Regions from separate parts of the Homo sapiens genome. Here region 1 is linked to region 2. The links come from fine-mapping of genetic effects on gene expression. A gene starts in region 2. The other region holds a variant in brackets. All regions are shown on one strand. Distances are from middle to middle.

Region 1 (8,281 bases), 43 kb before region 2:
TTATTTGGGTTTGTTTGTTTGTTTTTGAAACAGGGTCTTACTCTATCACCCAGGCTGGAGTACAGTGGCAGAATCTCAGCTTACTGCAACCTCCACCTCCTGGGCTCAAGTGATCCTCCCACCTCAGCCTCCCAAGCAGCTGGGATCACAGGCATGCACCACCATGCCATACTAATTTTTTGTATTTTTGGTAGAGACGGTGTTTCACCATGTTGCTCAGGCTGGTCTCGAACTCCTGAGCTCAAGCAATCTACCCGCTGTGGCCTCCCCATGTTCTGGGATCACAGGCATGAGCCACCACATCCAGCCCTCTTCTCGCTCTGTTGCCAGGCTGGAGTGCAGTGGCGCGATCTTGGCTTGCTGCAACCTCCGCCTCCCAGGTTCAAGTGATTCCCCTGCCTCAGCCTCCCAGGTAGCTGGGACTACAGGCATGCGCCACACCAAGCCCAGCTAATTTTTTTTTTTTTTTGTATTTTAGTAGAGACGGGGTTTCACCATGTTGGCCAGGATGGTCTCAATCTCCTGACCTGATGATCCCCCGACCTCGGCCTCCCCAAGTCTGTAAGGCCTCCCTTTACACCTGTAAAGGATTACAGGTGTGAGCCACCGCGCCTGGCCATCTTTCTTTTAAATAGGGATTTGAGATTCCGTTTAAGTTTAGAGGAAATTTAGGGTTAAAACTATTTTAGGAACCAAATTAAGAATGTGGATGTTGGGATGATGCCACATTGGTTGTTGCAAACTGGGACAATGTTTTCAAGTAACACTTTAATAATCACTTTAAAGATCAGCAGACCCAACACTGGCAAGCTTGAAATCCAACTGTGCTAACACATGACTCCTGAAGGTGTACTGGCAATTTTTACAATGCCACTCAGCAAAATGTTATCAAGAGCTGGAAAGGGGCTTACATCTAGTAATTCCCTATGAATGAACTTGCCCTGAAGAAAGTCACAAAAAGCATGGAAGAATGAGATAGAGGGATGATCAACCAAGTTTAACTTACAATCGCACAGTACTGGAAGTAGCCATAAGATCATTATTTTCTAGGTGATATTTGACTTAGTTGATACATCCACTTGACAGACTCTTACACAGCCACTAGAAAGTGTTAAATGTTGATTAATATAAGTAGAATATGACACTGTATCTATAAAGACACACTATCATTACAATTATAAATATTATATGTGGAAAAAAGGCTGGAGGTAAATATATTAAAATGTCACAAATGGGTATTAGAGGAATTGAATTAGGCATGTCTTCCTCTTTGTAGCATGCAAACTTTGTTAATATTTATAGATAATATTTTTTAAAGGGAGGGTTTCTGTCCTAAAGAACCCTGGAAGGAAAACTGGCTGGCCCAGCCCTGGGGACAGAGCATTGAGTATGTCAGTGTTGAGACAGGGATGCTGGGGCTGCCCCTGCGCTCTCCCACGGCACACAGTTCATCAAGAAGTCATGGACCAAGCTGTTACCAAGAACTACATTTTCCTACACTGCTGCAAGAACACACCAGGTGACCTCCCCATCCACTCCCTAACACCTAAGTCAAAATCGCAACACAGCTAGATCCCAGCCTTCCAGACTTAAAGACATTATGAAGAAGAAACATTTACTTCTTTGAAAAAATGCACGGCCAGGCATGGTGGCTCATGTCTATAATCCCAGCACTTTGGGAGGCCAAGGCAGGCGGACCTGAGGTGAGTTTGAGACCAGCTTGGCCAGCATGGTGAAACCCTGTCTCTACTAAAAATATAAAAATTATCCGGGTGTAGCAGTGGGCACCTGTAATCCTAGCTACTTGGGAGGCTGAGGCAGGAGAATCACTTGAACCCAGGAGGCAGAGGTTGCAGTAAGCCAAGATCAGTGAGCCAACAATCCAGCCTGGGTGACAAGAATGAAACTCTGTCTCAAAAAAAAAAAAATTACCGTCTTCCATTGGCAGGTGGTTGTGAAGGGGGAAAAGCCAAAATGCCCAAACTGAAAGGTAAAGTAGAAATTCAGGCTAACGCTGACCTTGAGCCAGGCTTCCTGGCAAAGATCAAAGCCTGTTGCCTTCTAACATTCTGCTCCAGCACACATAACTTCATACTCCACCCCACAAGGTAGAGGCCAAAGAGAACAAATCATGGTGGAGTACTTTCCTAATGCTCCTGCAGGTCCCACGATGTCTGAGACACAGGCAGGTCACTGCCTCGTCCATCACTGCAGGGCCTGCCAGCGCAAATCATGCCAATAACCTGCCGTTCGTGGATGCTGCGGGGACCCACAATGCTGGCCATGTTTAGTCCTCACCTGCAGGCACACTGAATGCAATGAGGATGCCCTCCTCTTCTAAGACTTTATTTTACTGTCCTTCTTATGTTTTGACTTAGCATTTTTTCAAGTCCTATTTGGTCACAGAAGAAGATAAATACATAATTACAGATTAAGAGAAAAACTTGCCTGTCTCTTGAATGTATAACATTTTTCATTACTTGCTCATATTATATCTTTGAAGCTATACATACTACAAAAAAAAAGCCAAGCAAATAAATAAAAATACAGCTTCACAGAAATAAGACCTCGTGCCCAGTTCTGTAAGCACACTATTTGAATAAAGCAAGAGCAAGCCATCAGAAAAGTAAGGGCTGTGGCAGGAAGCTAGTAGAACATTAGGACAGAATGTTTTCACACTTCGCAAGTGAAAACTGAAGGCTCGTGCTTCCAGATGATCTCGTGAGTGTGTGAGGTGGGCTTGCCCCAGTCCATCCAGAGTCCCACGCACCTTAGTAATGTCATACCACTCAGCAACAAATTACCAATCAACACAACCACACAAGCCACGTCAAATTCATTTTACTCTGTGAAAGAAACCAAACTCAAAAGGCTGCATCATGTATGATTCCATTTTACATAACATTCTGGAGAAGGCAAAACTATAGGGACAAAGAACAGATCAGTGGTGGGCAAGGCCTGGGGAACGGTGGGAGGAAATTAGCTGCAAAGGGAAGGAGAGGCTCTATGCTCTGAACCCCAGCTGTGACGCTGATTTCATACGTGACTGTACGCATCTGTCAGACACATAGCACTGAACCCTGAAACGAGTGAATTTTCTTGTATGGAAATTATATCTTTGTAAACCTGATTTTACAGTTTTTAAAGAAAAAAACACGTATGGCCATGCGTGGTGGCTCACTCCTGTAATTCCAGCACTTTGGGAGGCCGAAGCGGGCAGATCACCTGAGGTCAGGAGTTCAAGACCAGCCTGGCCAACATGATGAAACCCCGTCTCTACTAAAAATACAAAACTTAGCCCGGCATGGTGGTGGGCGCCTATAATCCCAGCTACTTGGGAGGCTGAGGTAGGAGAATTGCTTTAACCCGGGAAGCAGAGGTTGCAGTGAATCAAGATCGCACCACTGCACTCCAGCCTGGGTGACAAAGGTGCGACTCCATCTCGAAAGGAAAAAGAAAAAACACATACAACAGAAAAAGTGTAACTCCAGTTTCCTCGCACATTCCCGAATATTCTCAGGGCTGGCCATCCCATGTGTCCAATGCTGCCTGAACCCCCCACCCCCACACCCATCTCTACCAAAAGAAGAAATATTCTGAGTCTCAGTGAACCAAGACTGAAAGTCCAACAATCCTTTAAGAAAACAAATAAATTTCCAAAAGAACGCTACTTCCTGTAATTACTGACAGTGTCTGAAGGTCCTTTTCAAAATGATTAGCATTCTCTCCATTTTAAAGATATAGTTGAGATGCAAATTCTGATCATCTACATAGACAATATCCATTTAACTTCTCGATTTCAGCTATTGCAGATTGTTCTGACTTTGTGTAAGGAAACCCCATTTAAACTTCGTAACTCTATAAATCATTCCCATGGCTCCCACCAGCTACTGTGATCTCCGGTTTTAAGTTCCAGAGATTAGATAAGGCCTCGACATAGTGGCTAATGAGCTTTAATGTGCTTTAAAAGTCAAGGCTTGAGACCAGCTTTTCAGAGTAAACTTATTTTTCCAGAACAGTAGGTTTTCTTGCCAGGCAAGATTTGATTTCAAAATTGCACTAAGTTCTAGAAATTCAGGTTTCTTTCTTGCGTGCTCCCGGATTTCAGCAGAGTATTAGGAAACGTCCTGACCCAGGCTCCCCGCCCTCTAGGGTTGGGTAGAAAACAATCCACTGGGGAAAACCACACTCCCATTACTGGGCTTCGCCCCCTGGGGCTGGGCAGATCCGACAGTGGGATTATTTTTAGTTGAAGCATTGTGGCAAGCAGTCTGTGTGTGTGTGTGTGTGCGCGCGTGTGTGTGCGCACGCACACACGCGTCTCCTCAAACTCTGCCTCCTGCTTGTGAACAATTCCCTAAATAGTAATAATTTTCTTTTTATAAGAAAACCACAGCAACATATTTTATAAGAAAACTGTAGCAACATAGATGGCATTGGAGATCATTATATTAAGCGAAGTAAGCCAGGCACAGAAAGGCGAAGATCCCATGTTCTCACTCATGTAGGGGAGCTAAAGCAGTGGGTCTCATGGAGGTAGAGAGTAGAATGGTGGACACCCGCAGCCGGCAGTTACCAGGAAGGGGAAGGAGCGATGAAGAGAAGCTGGTTAATGAGTACAAAATACAGTTCGCTAGAAGGAGCAAGGTCTAGCATTCAATAATACAGTAGGGAAATTAGAGTTAATAATGTTATATATTTCAAAATAGAAGATTTATAGTGTTCCCAACACAATAAAAGATAAACGTGTGAGGTTCTGGATATCCTAATACACCGGGATTTTACCATGACACACTGAACACACAAATCAATCACACATGAATCCCAAATATGTACAATTAAGATACAGCAAGTAATTTTTTATTTATTATTATTTTTTTAAGACGGAGTCTCACTCTGTCGCGCAGGCTGGAGGGCAGTGGTGCGATCTCGGCTCACTGCAAGCTCCGCCTCCTGGGTTCACGCCATCTGGA[C/A]TGACCATATCATCAACATGAAGTCAGCTTTCTCACTTGGACTGTAACGTACCACATCATCATTCTAAAAGAGCTCTGTACAGTCTTTCTTTTATTTTGGTTTGTCTGTTTGTTTTTGAGACAGGGTCTCACTCTATCACCCAGGCTGGAGTACAGTGGCGGGATCTCAGCTTACTGCAACCTCCACCTCCTGGGCTCAAGTGATCCTCCCACCTCAGCCTCCCAAGCAGCTGGGACCACAGGCATGCACCACCATGCCATGCTAATTTTTTGTATTTTTGGTAGAGACGGGGTTTCACCATGTTGCTCAGGTTGGTCTCGAACTCCTGAGCTCAAGTAATCCACCCGCTGTGGCCTCCCCATGTTCTGGGATCGCAGGCATGAGCCACCACATCCAGCCCTCTTCTCGCTCTGTCGCCAGGCTGGAGTGCAGTGGCGCGATCTTGGCTCACTGCAACCTCCACCTCGCAGGTTCAAGTGATTCCCCTGCCTCAGCCTCCCGGGTAGCTGGGACTACAGGTGCCCACCACCACACCTGGCTAATTTTTTGTATTTTTAGTAGAGACAGCATTTCACCGTGTTAGCCAGGATGGTCTCCATCTCCTGACATCGTGATCTGCCCGCCTTGGCCTCCCAAAGTGCTGGGATTACAGGCGTGAGCCACCGCGCCTGGCCAAAATACAGCAATTAATTTTTTTTAAAAAAAGAAAACTGTCTCCAAGTAGCCTAGATTGATTTTTCTACACTGAGAACCTTCCCTTGTATAAATCAGAAAAAGGAGCTGTGAGAGCTGCTAAGAGGGTGCCACTGGCAAAAAGTCTGTGGACCCTGAGATGAGGCAGCACCACAGGGCGGGTGAGTGGTTGCCAGCAGATGAGTGGTTGCAGCCCGGCAGAGGCTGCGGACTTTGGGAACCTCAGCTTTAATGGAATTCTTAGACGGAAGCTTCTTTCAGGTTTGCCATCAAATGGTGACTATCACAATTTTTTAAGTCTAAAAATTATATGTCTCACTTGAGGTCAGGAGTTCGAGACCAGCCTGGCCAACATAGTGAAACCCTGTTTCTACTAAAAATACAAAAATCAGCTGGGTGTAGTGGCAGATGCATGTAATCCCAGCTAATTGGGAGGCTGAGGCACGATAATCGCTTGAACCCAGGAGGCAGAGGTTGCAGTGAGCCAAGATTGTGCCACTTCTCTCTGATACAGCCCCGAGCACATCGTACAGCAGGAAATGTTCTAAGTTTTAAATAAAAACCATGATGCAAAATTCTATTTACAGTATAATCTCAAATGTATTAGAAAGAGAGAAAATAAACAGGAGAAGTGGAAACATATAAATACACAAAAATCTTCAGTATTTTTGGAATAATGAACCTAAACAGGATTGTCCTAAACTTTCTTTACAACACAGAGATGTTTAATTAGGTAAGATACATGTTTAACATTACATTGTGTTAGAAACACTAATGTACTTTAACAAACATGTGGGGCAGCATTAGGTAGGTTTCACTCTGGGGGTTTCATTTACTTGTTTGTTTGGTAAACCTGAGACACTAATATGCACTAGGTTTTGTTGTTGTTGTTGTTGTTGTTGAGACAAGGTCTCACTCTGTCGCCCAGGCTGGAGTGCAGTGGCTCCATCTCGGCTCACTGCAACCTTTACCTCCTGGGTTCAAGTGATTCTCATGCCTCAGCCTCTCAAGTAGCTGGAATTACAGGCATACACCACCACGCCTGGCTAATGTTTTGTATTTTTAGTAGAGATGGGGTTTCACCATGTTGCCCAAGCTGGTCTTGAACTACTGAGCTCAGGCAGTCTGCCCACATTGGCCTCCCAAAGTGCTGGGATTACAGGTGTGGACCACCACGCCCAGCCTATGCACTAGTTTTAAAATTCAGAGGATTAAATTTGCTTTACATCATATAAAGAAATGTGTAGGCTGGGCGCAATGGTTCATGCCTGTAATCCCAGGACTTTGGGAGGTGGAGGCAGGTGGATCACTTGAGGTCAGGAGTTAGAGAGCAGCCGGGCCAACATGGTGAAACCCCATCTCTATTAAAAAATGTACACAAAAAATTAGCCATGTGTGGTGGCACATGCCTGTAATCCCAGCTACTCAGGAGGCTGAGGCATGAGAATCCCTTGAGCCCAGGAGGTGGAGGTTGCAGGGAGCTGAGATCACGCCACTGCACTCCAGCCTGGACAACAGAGCCAGACTCCATCTCAAAGAAAAAAGAAAGATAGAAAAGAAAAGAAAAGAAAAGAAATGTGTAAACATGCCCAAGAAAATCAGTTAACTGGCAAAAATGAACTGCTGATTCTTTTTTCTTACTCATCTTTCCTTCTGATTCATTTCATTCTCCTACTAAATACCTTCCTTGCAGGATTCTAATCAGGACTTAGATTGAAATCCAAACCCTTTAGTTCTTTATTTTTTTTATAATTATTTTTTCTTCAGGTCTCATAATATTTTGTTTGTTTGTTTGTTTTTTGAGATGGAGTCTTACTCCAGTTGCCCAGGCTGGAGTGCAGTGGCCTGATCTCGGCCCACTGCAACCTCCACCTCCCAGACTCAGGAAATCCTCCCACCTCAGCCTCCCAAGTAGTTGGGACCACAGGCACATGCCACCACACCCGGCTAAGTTTTTGTATTTTCAGTAGAGATGAGGTCTCACCATATTGGCCAGGCTGGTCTTGAACTCCTGAGCTCGAGCAATCCGCCACCCTCAGCCTCCCAAGAGTGCTGGGATTACAGGCGTGAGCCACCACACCCAGCCTTCATCTTTATTTCTTTAAAGAAACACATAAATGGTGCTTCTCTTCGTGTACTCCTCTAAGCACTGTGTATTACTCAATTCACCTAAGTAATTCTTCAGGTTGGCATTCGTAGCATGGCGACTTGGTTTCCACCTTGGACCAGCCTTTCCTACCTTTCCAATGGGTCTGTAACGTGGCCTTAGAAACATCCTCAAAGGGACTTCTCATCTCATTCATCTCTTCCTCCCACACAATCCTCCCACCCCCACCCCAAAATCCACTTGTCAAAAGTCAAGACAAGCTCTAATCCTACCTGCATTAAACCTTCCCGAAGCCTCCCGGTCAGAACTATTCCTACCCACTCCTTTCTCTGGTACTGGAGGTACAACAATTTCTGAAGAATATAAACTCTCATAGGAATTAAACCTACTAGTTTACATCATCTTTCTCTAGTTTCCTCTCCTCATCCGGCTTGGCTCTGTGTTCTACATAATAGATATGGCTCAACATGTCATGCCTTGTAAATACACTCATTTAATCTATAAAAT
Region 2 (8,332 bases):
CCTTCCCACTGTGACTATTGCGACATGTCTTAAAGCTTCTGAATTCATGAATCTTAATGGGTACTACAAAAGGTGAATGCAGATGAACATTTATTCTGTTACACAGTAGCAAAGCAGCAGGGGAGAAAAGTGATATAATTGCTTCAATTCTATCATTAATGTCACTTAATTTTGAATAAATTCACTTTAGATACATTTGAAAGTATCTTTCCAGCTACAGTTACTTATTTACTGGGTAAAAATTGAAGTAAAACTGTTCCTACACTCATGATCTCAGTCTACTATGGAAATTTTGCCAGAAAGAGCTATTAAGTAACTCCTGCGAAGGGCACATTTAGTGTCTAAGCTGACTCAAAAGGCAAGGAGGGCATCCTAGGGTTTGCTGTGTATGTGTACAAAAATTAGCAGGAAAATACCTAGAATAGCACTTCAAAGAAAATTCATGCCTCAGAAAGTTTCTTATAAAAAATGCACAGGCCAGGTGTAGTGGCTCACGCCTGTAATCTCAGCACTTTGGGAGGCTAGGGTGGGCGGATCAGTTGAGGCCAGGAGTTCGAGACCAGCCTGGGCAACATGGAGAAACCCTGTCTCTACTAAAAATACGAAAATTAGCCAGCAATGGTGGTTCGTGCCTGTAGTCCCAACTACTTGGGAGGCTGAGGCAGGAGAATTGCTTGAATCCAGAAGGCAGAGGTTGCAGTGAGCTGAGATGGTGCCACTGCACTTCAGCCTGAGCCTGACAGAGCAAGAATCCGTCTCAAAAAAAAAAAGTACAATCACCCCAAACAAAATTTTGGAATTAAAAAAAATGAAGGAGACTGTAGTTTATAGGATACCTTTCTTTCTTGCCTTTCTAGTTTATGGGATGTTTTTCTTGATATAAAACAACGTCCTACCAAGCCCTTCATAGGGCACATCAGTTAAAAAATAAGCAGTCTCTGTTACAAACGCTCAACTATCTGTCTATTGGGACCACGCATGGTGGATACAAATGGCAACAATACAGTTTCTATCCTTAGGGGAAAGGCCCAGAAGCAGAACTTTTCCTGGAGGAGACAGTCCCTGAGCTTGATCCTGAAAGAGTGTGCCCCCTAAAAAGCAGGACAGGAGAAAGGGCATGCCCTGCACCAGGAACATTTTGTGTTCCTATTCTAAACAAGCTCAAGGGCTACAAGCTGAATCTTGCAGTGTGTATACAAATACAGAACTCATATTTTAGCGATTTAGAAACACAGTGTTTTATAAAGGTAAGGCTAACAAAATGAAAGCCTTAGAACACTACTCCAATGCAAATTTATCTTCATGATACCCATTTCTACTTTTTTTTTTTTTTTTTTTTTTTTGAGATGGAGTCTCACTCTATCCCCCAGCTGGAGTGCAGTGGTGTGATCTTGGCTCACTGAAACCTCCGCCTCCTGAGTTCAAGCGATTCTCCTGACTCAGCCTCCTGAGTAGCTGGGATTACAGGCATGCACCACCACGCCCGGCTAATTTTTGTATTTTTAGTAGAGACGGGATCTCGCCATGTTGGCCAGACTGGTCTCGAACCCCTGACCTCAGGTGATCTGCCCTCCTAGGCCTCCCAAAGTGCTGAGATTACAGGCATGAGCCACCATGCCTGGACTTCTACTCCCATTTTTAAAAGTTATCACTACCAGATTTTCCTGCAGCCCTAGGCCCAAAAGAGTTTCTCTCATCCTCTTTCAAGCCCTCCCCATTCTGAAGGGACTTGCCCTGGATGTTTATAGGACAGCTAAGTGGCCCTAAGGAAGAGTGAACTTTGGAAAAAGATCAGCGGAAAAGAATTAAGTGGGACTGTATTCCTAGCAGGTACTTTCAAGATGAAATCTATAAACTGATAAGGAAAGCTGAAAACACAATATGCTCCTGAAATTGAAATATGTATATTTTGGTCTGTTGAAACCTAAGAATGAAACTGAACCAGGTTTTGGCAAATTAATTGACATTCCCCAAGCCCTATTTGTTAAGTGGGTGTTCCTTGGAATCACCTGTGGGGCCAGGAAAGAAATAGAGGGACGAGAAAGAAGGGTGGTAAAGAGGAAGGGAAGAAACCAGCACTGTCCCAGAGGCAGAGCTGGGTGTGTGCTGAAGTGCTGAGGGTGGGGGAAAGACAAGATTTTCACACCAGAAAACAAAGAAACAAGCAGAGGCCCCAGAGAATTATGTGGTCCTTAAAGTTTGGAAGCCTTTCTCTAATTCCTTATCAACATCCCTCAAGGAATCAGAAGTAAACTGTTAACTGAAGCTCCTCCTCAGTAGACTGAGCCACCCACAGCCAGATAACTGCACAATCAACTAAAACTTTACTTCACATGTATTAGGTGCATGCATAACACTACTCCAAGGCATGATGGACCTATACAAGGCCAAGCAAGGTGGCTCACAACTGTAACCCCAACACTTTGGGAGGCCAAAGCGCTTGCACCCAGGAGTTCAAGACCAACCAGGGCAAGATGGTGAGACCCCATCTCTACCTAAAAATTTTAAAAATCAGCCGGGTATGGTGACACATGCCTGCTGTGGGAGGATGGCTTGAGCCCGGAAGGTGGAGATCCACCATGATAGTGCCACTGCACTCCAGCCTGGGCGACAGAGCGAGACCCTATCCTATTAAAATTGTGTGTGTGTGCGCGTGCGCGCACGCATGCGTGTAAAAACTGTGTGTGTATATATATGTGTGAGTGTATATATATACACACACACATAAACTCTGGTAACTATTAATAAAATGCAAGACAGAGGTAACTACCACCACTGGTACAAAGTGCACTTTTTTTTTTTCAGACGGAGTTTCGCTCTTATTGCCCAGACTGGAGTGCAATGGCACCATCTCGGCTCACCGCAACCTCCGCCTCCCGGGTTCAAAGGATTCTCCTGCCTCAGCCTCCCGAGTAGCTGGGACTACAGGCATGTGCCACTACGCCCGGCTAATTTTGTATTTTTAGTAGAGACGGAGTTTCTCCATATTGGTCAGGCTGGTCTCGAACTCCCGACCTCAGATGATCCGCCTGCCTCGGCCTCCCAACGTGCTGGGATTACAGGGGTGAGCCACCGCGCGCGGCCCAAAGTGCACTTTTTAATATGCCTTCACTATTCAACCACGGGCACTCATGGGCCAGAAAGAACAAAGGCACAGTTAACTCCACTGCTCTGGAGAAAAGAAAGCTGACAACAAGGAATCTGATGCCTTCCTTCAGTGGGAAGGAAACACCCTGACATTGGAAGTGGTCTCCACACCGGGTTGTACACTGATGGGGGGCGGAGTCGGGGGCAGGCCAACACCTCAACAGCAGTCACCAAAAAGGTGCTTTTAACTATCAATAGCAAGTATTAACATGTTTATAGATTGCTGCTAACAGCTGGCCAAAGAAAGGTACATACAAATGCCCCTTTTTAAAAAACAAAAATAGCAAGGATTGTAACCGTAGGGGTGGGGGGCGGGGTGGGGGAAGCACACACTAAAAATCAGTTTGGGCAGAATTTAAGCTGTTAAATGGACACACTTAGCAAACTCTCTGGGCTCCATCGGCCCCCACCTCCCCTCTGGAAACATCGCCTCGCCCAGGAATTAGGACTGCGTGTATGTTCGCCTAACACCTGCTGCGGCCTCCAGCGACATCGTCGCCGACAGGACTGCGCTGGCACCCTCCCTGCTGGGCTAGTCCTGTCTCCGTCACTAAACGCCTGTGACCTTAGGTAAACTGCTTAGTCTCAGTATTCTCATTCGTAAAATGGGGATGAGAACACAGTCGTCGCAGGATCGCAGCCAGAATTCGTTTCATTCAACACGGTGCCTGGCACTTCTATGTGGACCTGCGGGCAGACGCGGCGACATTCAACAGAGTCCAGGAACCGCAGGCCCCGCGGCCTGGGCGGTCAACCTCGGAACCTCCTGCAACGCTGGCTCCCGGGAAGCAGACCCAACTCCGCGGGGCGCCTCCACCTGCCAAGCCCCTCCAGCCGCGCCTCTCCCCGAGCCCGCCAGCGCCGTAGGGGCCGCAGGGCGCAGGGCTTCGGAGGACCGGAGGCCGGGGCGGGGACAGCGACCCGGCGCCCACCCCGAGGGCCCCACGCGAGGGCACCACGTCCCCGGCGTCTCCCCGGGCTCCAGGGGCAGCAGCGCGGCTCGGAGCCCTTTACCTGCCAACGATCACCACGCAGCCGGCCGCGGAGGACGCCATGGTTGGGCCGGGGACGCGGCGCCGCGGGCGCTGGGACCAGGCGCCGGCGGAGCTGCGAGCTCTGGGCTCCGGGGAGGGCGGGTCCCGCGCCCATTGGCTGCGCGCGCGGACCGGGAGGGCGGGGAGGGCCGCTTGGTCCCTGAGTGGGGTGCGCGCCGCGGGCCCGAGACACCGGGAGACACACGGCGCGCCGACCCTCGTGGGCAGGGGCAGGACCAGCGCGGGGGCACGTCGGGGGGTGGAAAGCGGGAAGACCACGCGCTTGTGACTGTCAGCATTCACCGTGAAGTCCGTGTCTATAGGAGGGGACACGGGCAGGCTGGCACGGGCTCTAGCGCTAAAGCACCCTAGAGAAACTGTCAGAGAATGTCCCCTTTGCTAATTCGTCTCTGAAAGACGCCTGCCGCTGCCGCCAACTGCGAACTGGGCGCAGGGACTGCGACAGCAGTGAAAGAGAACACCTGATGCGTTCATCTGCGCTACGGAAGGACACGTCTGAATTCCTCCACGGAGCACACTCTGCACTCGGTTTATGTATCAGAAAAAGGAAATGCCCTCGTGCCCTGACTCCTGGCCTTCTTGGAGCCCGGAACAGACCAAGAGGAAGGGGCATCACACATTGCCTGACAGTGGTGTGCGTCCACACAGCACAAGCTGAACGGGAAATGACACAGTCATTAGACAGAGGAGACAGTACTCAAGCTGGAACCGCAGCCAACACTGAGATGATAAAAGGAAGTCTTCCTTTGTTTCCCCTGAGTCAGGAACGTGGAAAGAGAAATCTCAGGGGAGGGGTTAGGTTTTTTTGTTTTGTTTTGTTTTTTAAAGAACAGTTTCACAAATTATCGATAAATATTTGTAAAGTATTCAACCTCAAGAGAAATGAAAAGTAACACAAGGAAGATAAGTCATCTCTCACTCATCAGATTGGCTAAGTCACATGGATTGATTATATTCCCATATCCGTAATGGAGTGTTTCGGACATGCAACTTACACACAGTAGAAGGCAAGCTTAAATGTTGAGGACTTTTTGGAGGGAATGTTACAGTACATTGTTGAGACAGCCGCTAGCCTGAGCAACCGCGCCTGCTCTGGCTGAGAATACAAGGCTCCAAAGCTTCCATCTTCTGATGGAGCAGTTTCTGTAGTCAGTTACACAGGCAGCCAATATAATAATCAAGGCACCCAGGGAGTGAGCATCCTGTGACTGCTCACTACCGGAGGCTATGGGGGCAGCAGACTGGCTTGTTTGCTGCTCCCTGCAAAGTCATGCCTGAAATCCCAGCGCTTTGGGAAGCTGAGTAGTAAATAATAGCTTGAGGCCAGGAGTTCAAGACCAGCCTGGGCAACAAAGCGAGACCCCTGTCTCTACCAAAAAATTAAAAAACTTATCCAGGCTGGTGCCGCCTGTAGTCTCAGCTACTCAGTAGGCTGAGGCAGGAGGATTGCTTGAAGCCAGGAGTTTGAGACCAGCCTGTGCGAGATAGTGAGAACCCCCCCCCCCGCATCTCTAGTGTGTGTGTATATATATGTGTGTGTGTGTGTGTGTGTGTGTGTGTTTATATATTTATTTATTTATGTGTACATATATTTATAACTTTAATCCTTCTGGTACCAAACAAAAAAAATACAGATTTATTTAAATTAGCCAGGTGTGGTGGTGCATTCCTGTAGTCCCAGCTACTCAGGAGGATCTCTTGAGCCCTGGAGTTCAAGGCTGCAGTGAGCTATGATTTTGCCACTCTACTCCAGCCTGGCTAACAGAACAAGACTTTGTCTCAAAAGAAAGCAAAAGTGGCTGGACGCGGTGGCTCACGCCTGTAATCCCAGCACTTTGGAAGGCCGAGGCGGACGGATCACAAGGTCAGGAGATCGAGACCATCCTGGCTAACACGGTGAAACTCCGTCTCTACTAAAAATTAGCCAGGCGTGGTGGCAGGCGCCTGTAGTCCCAGCTACTCGGGAGGCTGAGGCAGGAGAATGGTGTGAACCCAGGAGGCAGAGCTTGCAGTGAACCAAGATCACGCCACTGCACTCCAGCCTGGGCGACAGAGCGAGACATCATCTCAAAAAAAAAAAGAAAGCAAAAAGTGCTGGGCCCTTGCTCGTTGCAAACACAGGAGTCATCTGGCCCTCTATGTAACCCTGTGGGAATTAAGGATCCAAGAACCCATATAAATATGGTGTCACTCTGGCTATTGCTTTTACTGTAATAAGATAATTTATTTTTAATCCAGGAGTCTCGTGACTTCTGTCAGCATCCAAGTGCAGAACCTCTGTTGCAATTTAGTGAAAATCTCAGACCCTTGCAGTTTCTGACATACACAAAATTTAGAATGTATGTACCCTTTGGCTTAGCAGTTCCAATTCTAGAGATCTGTTGTACAGAAATTCAAGTGGACAAGAAGTTAGACAAATTTCTTTATTTCAGCATGGTTGTTAATAGAAAAATATTGAAAACATGATGAATATCAATGAGAAATGTTTTTAAAGACTATGGAATTTTCGGAGAATGTCTGCTTCTGACCAAGAGGAAAAATAAGGATGAAACTTAAACTCCTTCTTGAAACAACTAGAAGGCCCCCAAAATAGAAGAAACAGGGATTTCAGACCCTGGACAAGAGGCAGCCTAGGACAGCGATCCCTGAGAGAGGGAAATAGACAAGGCATGGGCTGCAGCTCCGAAAGGGAAAGCTCAGAGCCTGGTTTTCTCACTGAGTTAAGGAAAAAGGAGACTGAAGTTCAGAAAAGCCAAATGATGAGAATTTGCAGGGCATGGTAGCAGAGAGGAGGCAAACACTCAGGGGAAAGAGGGAACTCCAGGGACCTGTAGAAGAGAGAGGCCCTTCACATGTTTGGCTGAGTGCTGAGCTGTGCGTGTGAGAGAGGAACCTGTGAGAGGGTGGGGTGAGAAGTCCCAGAATGAGTAAGCCAACCACCCCCAGACTCATGCAGGACTCAAAGATGTGTGTTCCCACAGCCAGACTGAAAAGACCTCATAATACACAGGACACCAGATAGAATCCTCAGGAACATGTGGCTTCAGCAGTGGAGCTAAGCTAGTCCTAGACTAAAGGTTTCTCTGGAACCATTTTAAGAAAGATCAAAAGCCAGCCTCACAAGGACCACCCAGATTCCAGGTAACTTAACTGTACTCCAGAACAAAATCCGTTACTATTGAAAGGAACACAACAAGTTTGAAAAAGAACACATTTAGAAGAACTCTACGTGATTTCAGCATTTACTATAAGTGAAACTCCCAATGTGATGGTAGTTAGGGACTGGAGCATTTGGGAGGTATTTAGGTCGTGAGGGTGGAGCCTTCATGAATGGGATTACTGCCCTTTTAAAAGGGACTACAGAGAGCTCTCTTGTCCTCTTTCCACCATATGAAGATATAACAAGAAGACAGCAGCCTGCAACCTTGAAGAGGGCCTTCACCAGAGCCCAATCTTGCTGACACTCTGATCTTGAACTTCCAGCCTTCAGACTGTGAGAAATAAATGTTGGTTGTTCATAGGCTACCCAGTTCATGGTACTTCTGTTACAGCAGCCTGAACTGACTGAGAAAGGTACAAAGACAATTCAATAGAAAAAGGATAGTCTTTTCAACAAATGGTGCTGGAGCAATTGGATATGCATAAGCAAAAATAATAATAATAATCAACACCTTAATTCTTACCACTTAACCACATACAAAACCTCAAAATGCATTATAGACCTAAATGTAAAACCTAAAAACTATAAAACATGCAAAAGAGAACAGAAAACTTTGTGACTGTTAGGCAAAGATTTATTAGATATGACATCATAAGCGTAACATAAAAGAAAAGGTTGCTTAGTTTGACTTCATCAAAATTAAGAACTTAGACATTTTCTAAGACAATATTAAGAAAATGGAAGGAAAAGCCACAATTTGGGATAAAATATTTCAAATCACGTATGTTACAGGGCTTGTATAGGAAATATATTAAAAAGTCTTAAACTCAATAATAATTTTTTTTTTTTTTGAGACGGAGTCTCACTCTCACCCAGGCTGGAGTGCAATGGCACAATCTTGGCTCACTGCAACCTCCACCTCCTAGGTTCAAGCAATTCTCCTGCCTCAGCCTCCCAAGTAGCTGGGATT

What was found.
Region 1: its variant is fine-mapped to the expression of CRYL1 in whole blood (TOPMed, PIP 0.97).

What each region holds. Positions count from the first base shown.
Region 1 is chr13:20,478,468-20,486,748 of GRCh38, forward strand. The region is part of intron 3 of CRYL1 (crystallin lambda 1); the gene reads right to left. Among named protein-coding and RNA genes, the nearest start is that of CRYL1, 43 kb to the right of the region's middle. The variant C/A (reference allele first, on the strand shown) is at 4,974.
Region 2 is chr13:20,521,593-20,529,924 of GRCh38, forward strand. It overlaps CRYL1 (crystallin lambda 1), which reads right to left and starts at 4,265. Exons shown (of 8, transcript NM_015974.3): 1 at 4,162-4,265. The coding sequence starts at 4,202. RefSeq lists a silencer at 3,941-4,490 and enhancers at 4,671-4,780, 7,129-7,238.